Regions from separate parts of the Homo sapiens genome. Here region 2 is linked to region 1. The links come from fine-mapping of genetic effects on gene expression. A gene starts in region 1. The other region holds a variant in brackets. All regions are shown on one strand. Distances are between the middles of the regions.

Region 1 (5,387 bases):
AATCTTCACTTATTTTCTTAAGAGATTATAATGTATTACATTATACATATATTACATGTTATACATACATAATTATACACACATAATTATACACACACAGTGTATCAATGGCTTTAGAATTGGTGAATGGACACGATAGTGAAAGGTGATAGTCATTGCCTTTAGCTGAAAAAGGCAGAGGTTGGAGATAGGCTTGTTTCATAGTTCTCATCACAGAAGGCTTGGCTTTGCTAGATTTACTTTTCACGGATAGTATTTACTAATGGGAGTAGGGAGAATATTTCAAGATATTTGCACATTTTCTCAAAAGAAGTGACAGAACAGCAAAAGGATATTCTCTGTGAGTGATTTTTAAATGGCACTTATAAGCCCCAAATTAGGATCAGAGGAAGGGAAGTTTAGGACTAAAGGAAAGTGAAAAATGGATAACTGACATCCCTATAGATGATTTTATACAATAAAGTTAGATGATGCATAAGAAATCCCACTAGACTATCTAACCTACTTGAGGGCAGGGACAAAGTTTTACTCATTTTTCAATTATCTACCAGTATCTAATATGATTCTTAACACACAAAGTGAGTCTTCTACACATTGCAGTTCAACAGGAATTATCTCAACTGTATCTCATGTTCAGTAATTCCAGAGCCAAGCAAACTGAGACCCGAGATAGAATTTCTGAGATTGTCTTTAGTTTTGGGAAATAGTAGATACTCTGATTGATAACAATGGAATTTCAGTTACTGAAAAGTAACAGTTAAAAGGATTCAGGAAAGGTATCACAGCTGGCTTCCACACCATATTATACCAGGAGGCCTAGTGACTAGCTCTGGAAAGCGTATAGCATTGGATGGCTGAGGGGAATTAAGAAATTCAAGTAGCAGTCAATTAAAAAAAAAAAGATGTTGACATAGCATGGTGGCTCACGCCTGTAATCCCAGCACTTTGGGAGGCAGAGGCAAGATGGTGGCTCAAGGCTAAGAGTTTCAGAGCAGCTTGGGCAACAGAGTGAGGCTCTGTTTCAACAACAACACAAAATTTTAAATAGCCAGGTGTGGTAGTGTGCCTGTAGTCCCAGCTACTCAGGAGGCTTGCTTGAGCCTAGGAGTTTGAGGTTACAGAGTGCTATGATTGCACCACTGCACTCCAGACTGGGCAACAGAGCAGAACCCTTTTCCTAAAATAAAAAAAAACAATGGCAAATACACATGCTTATTTATTATATATCAACAGCACCTTTCATTAATACTAGCACACGTTCCATAGATATTTGGTACAAGTACAATATATCTCCACTCATGGCATTCTGGTAAAGTGATGGTCCATGTTAAAAATAGCTCATTATCATGGGTAAAGGGACTTACTTAAGGCTTTATTTCATAGAAATCAGGCATGGCTATCAAGAAGAACAGAAATGCCTGGAAAACAGACTCCAGTGGGTCACTTCTTGGAAAGAAAGTTTAATCAGTATTGACAAAAAAGGGGGAACATGTTCCAGGACTATTTGTGTTATTGAAAGCAAGGAATATAGTGATTGAATTAAAAGGGGAGAAATAAAAGCAGATATTGCATTGCTTCCCAGTGGAAATACTGTTTGAATCATGTGGTAGGCTGATCGGACTCTATTCTGGGGTTTCAGTTTTCTGGACGTGTTTCTTTTTCGTATCCTAGGCTGATTCATGATAGTTTTGAATGATAGTTATTTTTCAATTTTTCCTTTGATCCCCGAAGACTCTTATTTGTGTCAATCTTTATTTAGCCTGGCCATCAATTAGTGTAAAACAAGGGGAGATGATGTGGATTCAATAAGGTAAGAAACTGACTAGCCAGCGTCACACACAAAGTTATCAAACCTGGTTCTTAGAATCCACGTTCTCATGTCTGGCTCTTTGTTCAAAGGGAAAAAAAAATCAATAGGATGGCTGGAGGGAGACATTTCCCTATCCTCATTGAAGACTGATGAGCTGTCAGTCTATTACGTGGTATCCTGTTGAGGAACATGTGAACAATTGGAAGAGTTTATCTGATGACTGACCAGTTGTGAAATTTAGCACCCATTAATTGATTCTTAATGTGAGAGGATTAACTTGGGAATTGTGAGTTTCTACGTGTGGAAAGGAAAACATATTCCCTTTACTCAGTTACTGTGCAAAAATCAATAACCCCAATTTGCATGTAAGTAAGAAACAATATGTCCCTTGCTCAAAAAAATTAACATCCTTCTAGCTCTTCCTTTCTTCTCCTTACAACTTTGATATACTTCTTCGTGTGTGTGTGTGTGTGTGTGTGTGTGTGTGTGTGTGTGTGTGTGTGAATAGCCTTCCTAAAGGCCTGGGCTTTTTCTAAATGTATGCCTTTAATTTTTATCCAAAAACTTCTCTTACAGCAACATGTCTTGTCTATTCTATTCCAGCACAAGGCAGATGCACAGCAAATGTGAGCTGACTCTAGTCCTTCTTCTGAAAACAGCCATGGGAAATTTAGGCAAAGAATGTGTTGTCTTTGCTAATACTGCTCTTTAAGCCCCAGACATAGCTAAACTCTTAGCTAATTACCCCCTGGGTCCCAGGCTTTCACTGGGGCCTTTTAAAATACACAAAACCAAAGTGACGGCAGGAGGCCATTAGCACTACATAATTCAAGCAAACAATAAATGTGTTTATTCTGCCTGGCTACTGACCACCTGCCTTCCCATCCCGCCAGGCAGGTATCTATATATACGATTTCCTTTTTCCCAGTCCTGCAGAGAATGAGCCTCTCCTTTGGGCCTCATCATTTACAAAAGAAGCTTGGGCCCCTGACAGCATGCATCTCCTCTTATTTCAGCTGCTGGTACTCCTGCCTCTAGGAAAGACCACACGGCACCAGGATGGCCGCCAGAATCAGAGTTCTCTTTCCCCCGTACTCCTGCCAAGGAATCAAAGAGAGCTTCCCACAGGCAACCATGAGGAAGCTGAGGAGAAGCCAGATCTGTTTGTCGCAGTGCCACACCTTGTAGCCACCAGCCCTGCAGGGGAAGGCCAGAGGCAGAGAGAGAAGATGCTGTCCAGATTTGGCAGGTTCTGGAAGAAGCCTGAGAGAGAAATGCATCCATCCAGGGACTCAGATAGTGAGCCCTTCCCACCTGGGACCCAGTCCCTCATCCAGCCGATAGATGGAATGAAAATGGAGAAATCTCCTCTTCGGGAAGAAGCCAAGAAATTCTGGCACCACTTCATGTTCAGAAAAACTCCGGCTTCTCAGGGGGTCATCTTGCCCATCAAAAGCCATGAAGTACATTGGGAGACCTGCAGGACAGTGCCCTTCAGCCAGGTATGTGTTCTGGGGGGAGAGCAGGTAAGAGTTTGCAGGTGGTAGTGGACAGCTGGGATGGATGGAGAGTAGGGGAAAAGGCTGTCAGGAGCCTGACTCTAGCTTAACTACAGATTTGGTCCTTGGGCATTCATCATAGGATTTGGCAAAGATTAAGTTTCCTTCTGGCCTTTCCATTTTTTCTTGGCATTGTGGAAATGCTGCAAGAATGATATGATGATACTGTCAATATCAGTAATCATTCATTCACACTGAAGACACAGAGCTCTGTTTTATTTATTTATTTTTGCATTGGAGGTGATCTACTCAGAGATATAAGTCAGACTGTACCCTCAGTTAGGAAACTGAGAATTTAGAGTAATCACCAGAACTCCTCTGTAGCTATCTTTCTGCACTCTATTAATATGTGGATGAGCAGGTCAACTCCATTTGTTGATAAAGTGGGGTGCATTGGACTCCTTCCCAAATACTCTCATATCCATTTACGATGGTCTTAATCCCCATAGTCCATACTTAATTACTTTATAGGTTTATGAGGGACTTCTTTAATAGCTTGCTAAAGCTATCCCACAACCTCAAAGTACGTTGAGGTTCTCAGGCAAAAGTTGTCATATCATTTCTAGTATTATGATAGCAAAAAAGTGATTTTCTTTCACTTATTTTCTCATATGAGCTTTTTAAAAAATCAATCTTGATGTGAGATCATATCTCCTCCCCTTAGAAGTACCTTTCTCCTGATTCATGTTGTGTTGGCTGATTTGTAGTTATTATGATCAATTCCATGCTATTAAGACAAAGGGACATCCTACTGTCTACTTCCTCTGGCAATATCTACATTCCAAATGTTAAATTAAAATTGAGAACTTGCATTAGGTCCTTAAACATGAAGATATTGAACCAAAAACATGCAGGGTAGAGTAAAATTTTATAGTCGAGTAATGCTACCCAATTAAGCAAGCAATAGAATAGGGCAATTGACTGTTCAAGGCAGTTAAGTATTCTGCCTGAAAAGGCAAGGATATGTAGCAATGGCAAGTCAATTATCAAATAATAATGACTACTCTGTTGGCCATGTGCAATTAGAAAATTACCCCTAAGAATCAGGCAATCAAATTTCTTTTGAAATTCTTCTTTTGAATTCTATTGCTAATTAAATTAAAACTAAGATGTTTGACTCTTACATATTTTGAAAGGCATATAAAGCTAGGTGCTTGGAGTTATGAGAGGTAAAGGTGATGTAATATACAATGATTTGCAGGCATATGCATTGTAACTCTGCTTGCATACAACTTCATAGACTTGAATGTACTACAGGTCTTGCAGAATAGGATAGAATTAAACCTAGAATGTTCTGATCTATTCTACGATCAATGTAACAAATATGTATTGGGAGCCTACTATGCACAAAGCCCTGTGAGGAATAAAAAAGTAAGGCACATTACTTATGTAAGATAATTACCATTAGAATTTTTCAATCGCTCACATCCAATTAGACAAAATTGCTTAAGGTTTTGCACGAATAATGTAGAGTAAAATATTTTTTATGTTAACTTAGGGATTCCCTAAAGGCTGTTTAATAATTTACTCAATAAAGAAAATTTAATTGAGGTGGTTCTGTGCCCTTATAGATACCATCACTTGCATATTGCAAATTGTATCCAAAATTGGAAAGCTTTGAAATTTTTAAATTATCCTCAGATTTACAGTCCATAGCTTCTGCATTATGTGTGTTAAAGAAATAATTCAAAATAACGTAATGGAAATGTGTTTGCTTTTTAGACTATAACCCACGAAGGCTGTGAAAAAGTAGTTGTTCAGAACAACCTTTGCTTTGGGAAATGCGGGTCTGTTCATTTTCCTGGAGCCGCGCAGCACTCCCATACCTCCTGCTCTCACTGTTTGCCTGCCAAGTTCACCACGATGCACTTGCCACTGAACTGCACTGAACTTTCCTCCGTGATCAAGGTGGTGATGCTGGTGGAGGAGTGCCAGTGCAAGGTGAAGACGGAGCATGAAGATGGACACATCCTACATGCTGGCTCCCAGGATTCCTTTATCCCAGGAGTTTCAGCTTG
Region 2 (5,387 bases), 140 kb before region 1:
TACAAGCCTGAAACCAGCAGGATTTAATCCTGATTATAATAACATTTATAGAGGAAATCAGGTTCAAACTAATATGGATGCATGTAATTTTTTTCTTAATAATGCACTGTTTCAGTAAGTCTTTCCAATTTCTCCTCTTTCCTGAAGATAACTCTGGTATATCTCACCAGCTGCTTGACCTTATAGAGTAGCTAATTATACAGGAAAAAGCGCAAAGCATCATGTAAGAGAATTACATTGGAGTTATTCCTGCCCCGAGTTATCACATCCATTGCCAGTCAGAGTGGCTTTGGATAAGAGATCAAGATTTCAAGACATTTTTAGGACATACCTGTGACCTTAGCATAGCAAAGGTAAAACTTGAAGATGTTTCATCTATTAACATCACTTAAACATTTTTTCTGAGTAAGGGAAAAGAAGTAGAAAAGAGATGTGAAGATACTTCACTTTAAATATTCACTGTTCTTTGAAATTATCTGCTTAATTTTTTTCCTTTTAATCAAAATCTTGGAGACCTTTATATTTAAGGGTATTCTATTGTCAATCTTCTTGTAGAGTGAAGAGTTACCTCCTAATTCATTGGGTTTAAAAAGTCTATATTCTCTAACACTGTTTTTGCTTAAAGTAGGAGTTACCACTATACATAATTTTAAAAAATTGCTTCTGATTTTATTACTTGTTCCCACTGTCCTGTAACTTTGCTCCCAGTGCAAACAATCTTGAGAATATTCAACACTAGATGCTGCTGCTGCTTCTGGAAAAATGGACCATTCTCTTTTGCTGAACTATGAACTTTATTTCCTTTTCATTTGGCTAAAGAAAACTAATCCACGAGGTTATTGAAAAGTGGTACTAGGTATTACAGAGAGAGAAAAAAAGACTTAGATGGATACTAGCTCAACTGGTGTCTCTAGACACTCCATTTACCACACTTCAAGTTATAGACCCATTCTGAAACACATCAGAATTCTTTGGAAGAGGGTCTCACTTTGCAGGTATTTCTGATGTGGTAGTAACCAAATGTCTCTGCCTAGTTGCTTGTAAGATTTTATCGTCAGTCAAAGAGCTTTAGATGGGTATCTAAAACATGTTAGAATTCAACAATGGCTCCACATATTAGCCATTGTATTCCCAAGTGTTTGGTAGTTGCAGTGTCTCCTCAGTTACTCCCAATTATACTTGCATTCTGAATGTGTTTTGATTGGCACTTACGAGTCAGGGAAAAAGAAGATACCTGGGATTGCTCATACTAGAACCCCAATGTGCTACATAGGATGAGGAAGCAATACAAATAAGCTCAGGAGTGGGTGATAGAGACCCAACTACAGGGACTGGGGTCGAAAGGAAAATGCAGGCTGGTTGCAGTAGCTTACGCCTGTAATTCCAGTACTTTGGGTGGCTGAGGCGGGTGGATCACTTGAGTCCAGGAGTTAGAGACCAGCCTGGTCAACATGGTGAAACTCCATCTCTACTAAAAATACAAAAATTAGCCAGGCGTAGTGGCACATACCTGTAAGCCTAGCTACTCGGGAGGCTGAGACACAAGAATCGCTTGAACCCGGGAGGCGGAAGTTGCAGTGAGCCAAGATAGTGCCACTACACTCCAGCCTGGGTGATAGTGTGAGACTCTGTCTGAAAAAAAAAAGAAAGGAAAATGCAGCCTGTAGAGTTTTGAGAGAGGGTAAAATAGGACACCTGATCCTAGAGGACTGGGGTGTTTGATAAAGCAGGAACCCAGGGCTGTACTGGCACATATGGGTGTCTTATAAAGACTGGTGATTGATAATATGGTACCTCTTCCAATCAATATATTTTTAAAAATCATTCAACATTTATTTAGAAGTGGGCCTGAGTATATTGTGAAAAAGAGAAGAAGGAAAATTCCCACTGGTAGCTCGCAGGAGCAAGCTGTCTAAGCTGTCTTCCAGTTTGGACCTCAAGCATGCATGCCCAACTGAGCAAAACAAAAGCCCTGCAGATGACCAGATTCTCCTTAGTAGGCAATTTGGAGATAATCTATTGTTACCTAAGCCAGCCTCTGAGAGCTCTCCTCTCCCTACCTCAAATGGCCTATGACTCCTTACCGTATATGGCAGTCTCTCTGAGAGAAATAAAATTGTCCCC[A/G]TTATATATCTTTAGTGATGTTTTAATGGTCCTGATTGCTTGGCCTGCTCCAAGGCACTGAGGAGCAAAAAGGGATCCAAGTGACTAGAACTAGGTAAAAAACATTTGTTCACAAGAATCAAGGATTGGAATAGGCCTGCAAGTCATCTCCATCTCACACTCTCTGATTTTAAGGTAAAACTCCAGTTACTAGAAAGACAGTATAGAGGAGAAACCACAAATTGCCTTGGTTGCTGAGAAACACCTCTGAATATACTGATTCCCTAGCCTGCTATTGCTCATTAAGAAAAAGTAGAATCAAGTCATGAATACTTAGTGTATGTATTTCCAGAGGCAAATATGACATCTCAAATGGATTTATAGCCTCTAAAGTCGGTATGGGATTTATATCTTCTAATATTTATTCTGTGGTAAAGGAGTTCATTAAAATATGGAGTTTCAGTACTTTTTTTGGCCAAATATTAAAACTGTGTGTGAGAGAAATCTATATCATGGGAGAACTTTGTTTCTCAAACTGCCAGGTGATTGTTCCTATTTGTTATTCTCATAATTTCAACAAAAACAAGATTCCTAAGTCTGTTTTGTTTTGTTGAATTTGTGCTTGGTTTTTAACGCAGGCTGGTTCAGTCCTTCCCTAGGGGTTCGTTCCTTATGGAGTTTTAGAAATTAAGCATAGCTAAGTGCATGTGCACACACACACACACACACACACACACACACACACACAGCCTAAACATTATTCTTTAATAGAGCTTAGTAATAAGCTGAAAGCCAAGCTTATGTGAACCCATTTCTAGCAAGACGACTGTATTAACAACACCCTGCTGTGTAATGAACAGTTTCATGTGACTTGCACAGAAAATGTTTTGTTTAACATCTGTTCAATTAGTGTTTTCATTTCATTACTGAAGTTTGTCTTAGGATCAACAGGTTCATTTTCCTGTTGAATATTTGGAAAGGGATTTCAGTTGATGCACACCAGTGCCTTCTGTTCAGATAACCCTCTTGATATAGTCAATTAGATGAGGTTGATGGCAATATGTTTTCCTCATGTTTTAGGACAAGACTCCCTCACACATGGCACTTCTCACACCTAGCCCAAAGCAAGAAATTTGCTGGGTGGAAAGCACCCCAGGTTAGCACTAAACTTGCTTTTTTGAATAGGAAATATAGCGGTAAGAAAGTATCTCTACTTTGAACCATTTTACTGTCATTAAAGTGAGTAATGAGCTAGGAATGTGTGACAATTTAATTATAAATTGTAATTGAAAAGCAGTTGAAGTGGAAAAAAACAAAGCTAGACAGTAATTAGAAAAGGATTTAGCTCTCCTTTGTTTTAGTTAGTAAATTTATGGACAATTATGGTTGTCGCCTTTTATAAAAGGAAAACATATTATGAAACATAAAACAGATGTTTCTTTTAACAAAGCAGACTGTCTCTTTATTACCATGACTATTTGTCAATGATATGGGGAAGGTCTTTGCTTTATCTCCTTCCTAGTTGTCAATTTAAAAGAGGAATCAATGATATCTGCGGGAAAAGAAAATCGTTTGTATTAGTGGTAAAGTCTTCTCTGAGTGAATTATGTTGTCTGAAAATGTTTGAGGCTGTGAAAAGGTACAGACGAAACACCACGAACACAATGGTGGACATGCGTGCATACCTCAAGGGTATTAGAACTCTACCAGAGTCAGATTGGGCAGAATGAAGGGCATGATATGGGTGGGAGAGATGATTCTTCCTCTAAAAATCAGGTTCCCAAAATATAACAGTTAACAATCTCCTAATAATTCTGAGTGAGTTGAGACAGTTCATTATAATTTTATTTGAATAGAGGAAATTGCTTTTAGATTTCTGTTTTTCTCATCTGCCATTTCTGCTATTGCCTAACTAATGAAAGCAGTTTTTTGCAAGTATGCAAGACACAACTCTGGGTCATGTTAGGCTCTGATTAACCACAGTAGTGTCCATAGTCAGTGGCTTCATCTTTGAATATGAGAATACTATTCGGAAAAAAAAAGAAATGAAAGGAGAACACAGATATACAGAAAGAATACAGTGTGTTTGTGGGTGGGTTAAAGCATGCCTTTTCATGCAGACACACAGAAAGAACTCTCTAACTCAATTGCTGTGAACCCCTGAAAGGGGTAAATAAAATTTCGAAAAATGAAAGTATGTTTTAAATGCACTCTAGGTGGTAAAAAGACACTTATTTAGAGACGTAATCATCCCTTAACTAATTTTCTTGAACTGCTTTGGTTTTCACAACTTAGATATTCTCAAAACAAGAGACAGCTGTATAAGTAGGATGGTGACTGGGTATGGGGGTAGGGTAGAGGTGGTGGTGGTGAAGACACACACACTCACACACATACACACATTACTAACAGAGCATATTTTCTCCAGGCAGTGCTCTCCTGGCAAAATGTTAAATCTTGTACCAATTTTCTCATAGATATTTATCCAATTCTTCATGTGAACTAGGTCTTTGACTGCCATTTCCTTCCCAACGAAGTCAAGTATGTTCACAATGGTTGTCCAATTCTTGATGAAGACACAGTGAAGCTCAGACTTTACAGGTAAGCGGCACGGGAACATCGCTCATTTGCTGCCAAGTAACCATTCTGTGTTCTTATGAGGGCTTTTCTTGTGGATATGTATTGTCATGAGGGGAGTTAATAGATTCCAGACAAGAAAGTAATCAACAGAAACTGGAGGCCTGAGTGGATCAGGCAAGATTTGTAGCCAACTTTCAGTTATTTCCACTTGTGTCATCTTCCCTAGGATTCTTCTGTGGCAAATTTTTAGCCGTATCCTGTTTCCCTCTAGTGTCCTTATATAGGTATCTCTGGTGTTCCAACCCACCACTTATGGTAGAAAATGGAAATTATAAACTACAAATTCTTAATGAAAATCAGGGAGAAAATATATTCCAAAAATGAATGAAATTCTTCTTTTTTGTTACCAGCTGTTTAGTTACAGAAAGTGCAATATCTTCCATTTTTAAACATATTAAATATTTAAAATTCCTTTTTTTTTTTTTTTTTGAGACGGAGTCTTGCTCTGTCACCCAGGCTGGAGTGCAGTGGCGCAATCTCGGCTCACTGCAACCTCTGTCTCCCAGGTTCAAGCTATTCTCCTGCCTCAGCCTCCTGAGTAGCTGGGACTACAGGCGCCCACCACTACGCCCGGCTAATTTGTTGTATTTTTAGTAGAGGTAGGGTTTCACCGTGTTAGCCAGGATGGTCTTGATCTCCTGACC

What was found. PIP is the estimated chance that this variant, and not a neighbour inherited with it, causes the effect.
Region 2: its variant is fine-mapped to the expression of CER1 in sigmoid colon (GTEx, PIP above 0.99).

Annotation. Positions count from the first base shown.
Region 1 is chr9:14,720,091-14,725,477 of GRCh38, reverse strand. CER1 (cerberus 1, DAN family BMP antagonist) reads left to right here and starts at 2,745. Exons shown (of 2, transcript NM_005454.3): 1 at 2,745-3,312; 2 at 5,092-5,387. The coding sequence starts at 2,806. RefSeq lists enhancers at 1,720-2,657, 2,658-3,597.
Region 2 is chr9:14,863,126-14,868,512 of GRCh38, reverse strand. FREM1 (FRAS1 related extracellular matrix 1) reads left to right here. Exons shown (of 37, transcript NM_001379081.2): 3 at 4,610-4,704. Among named protein-coding and RNA genes, the nearest start is that of FREM1, 45 kb to the left of the region's middle. The variant A/G (reference allele first, on the strand shown) is at 2,125.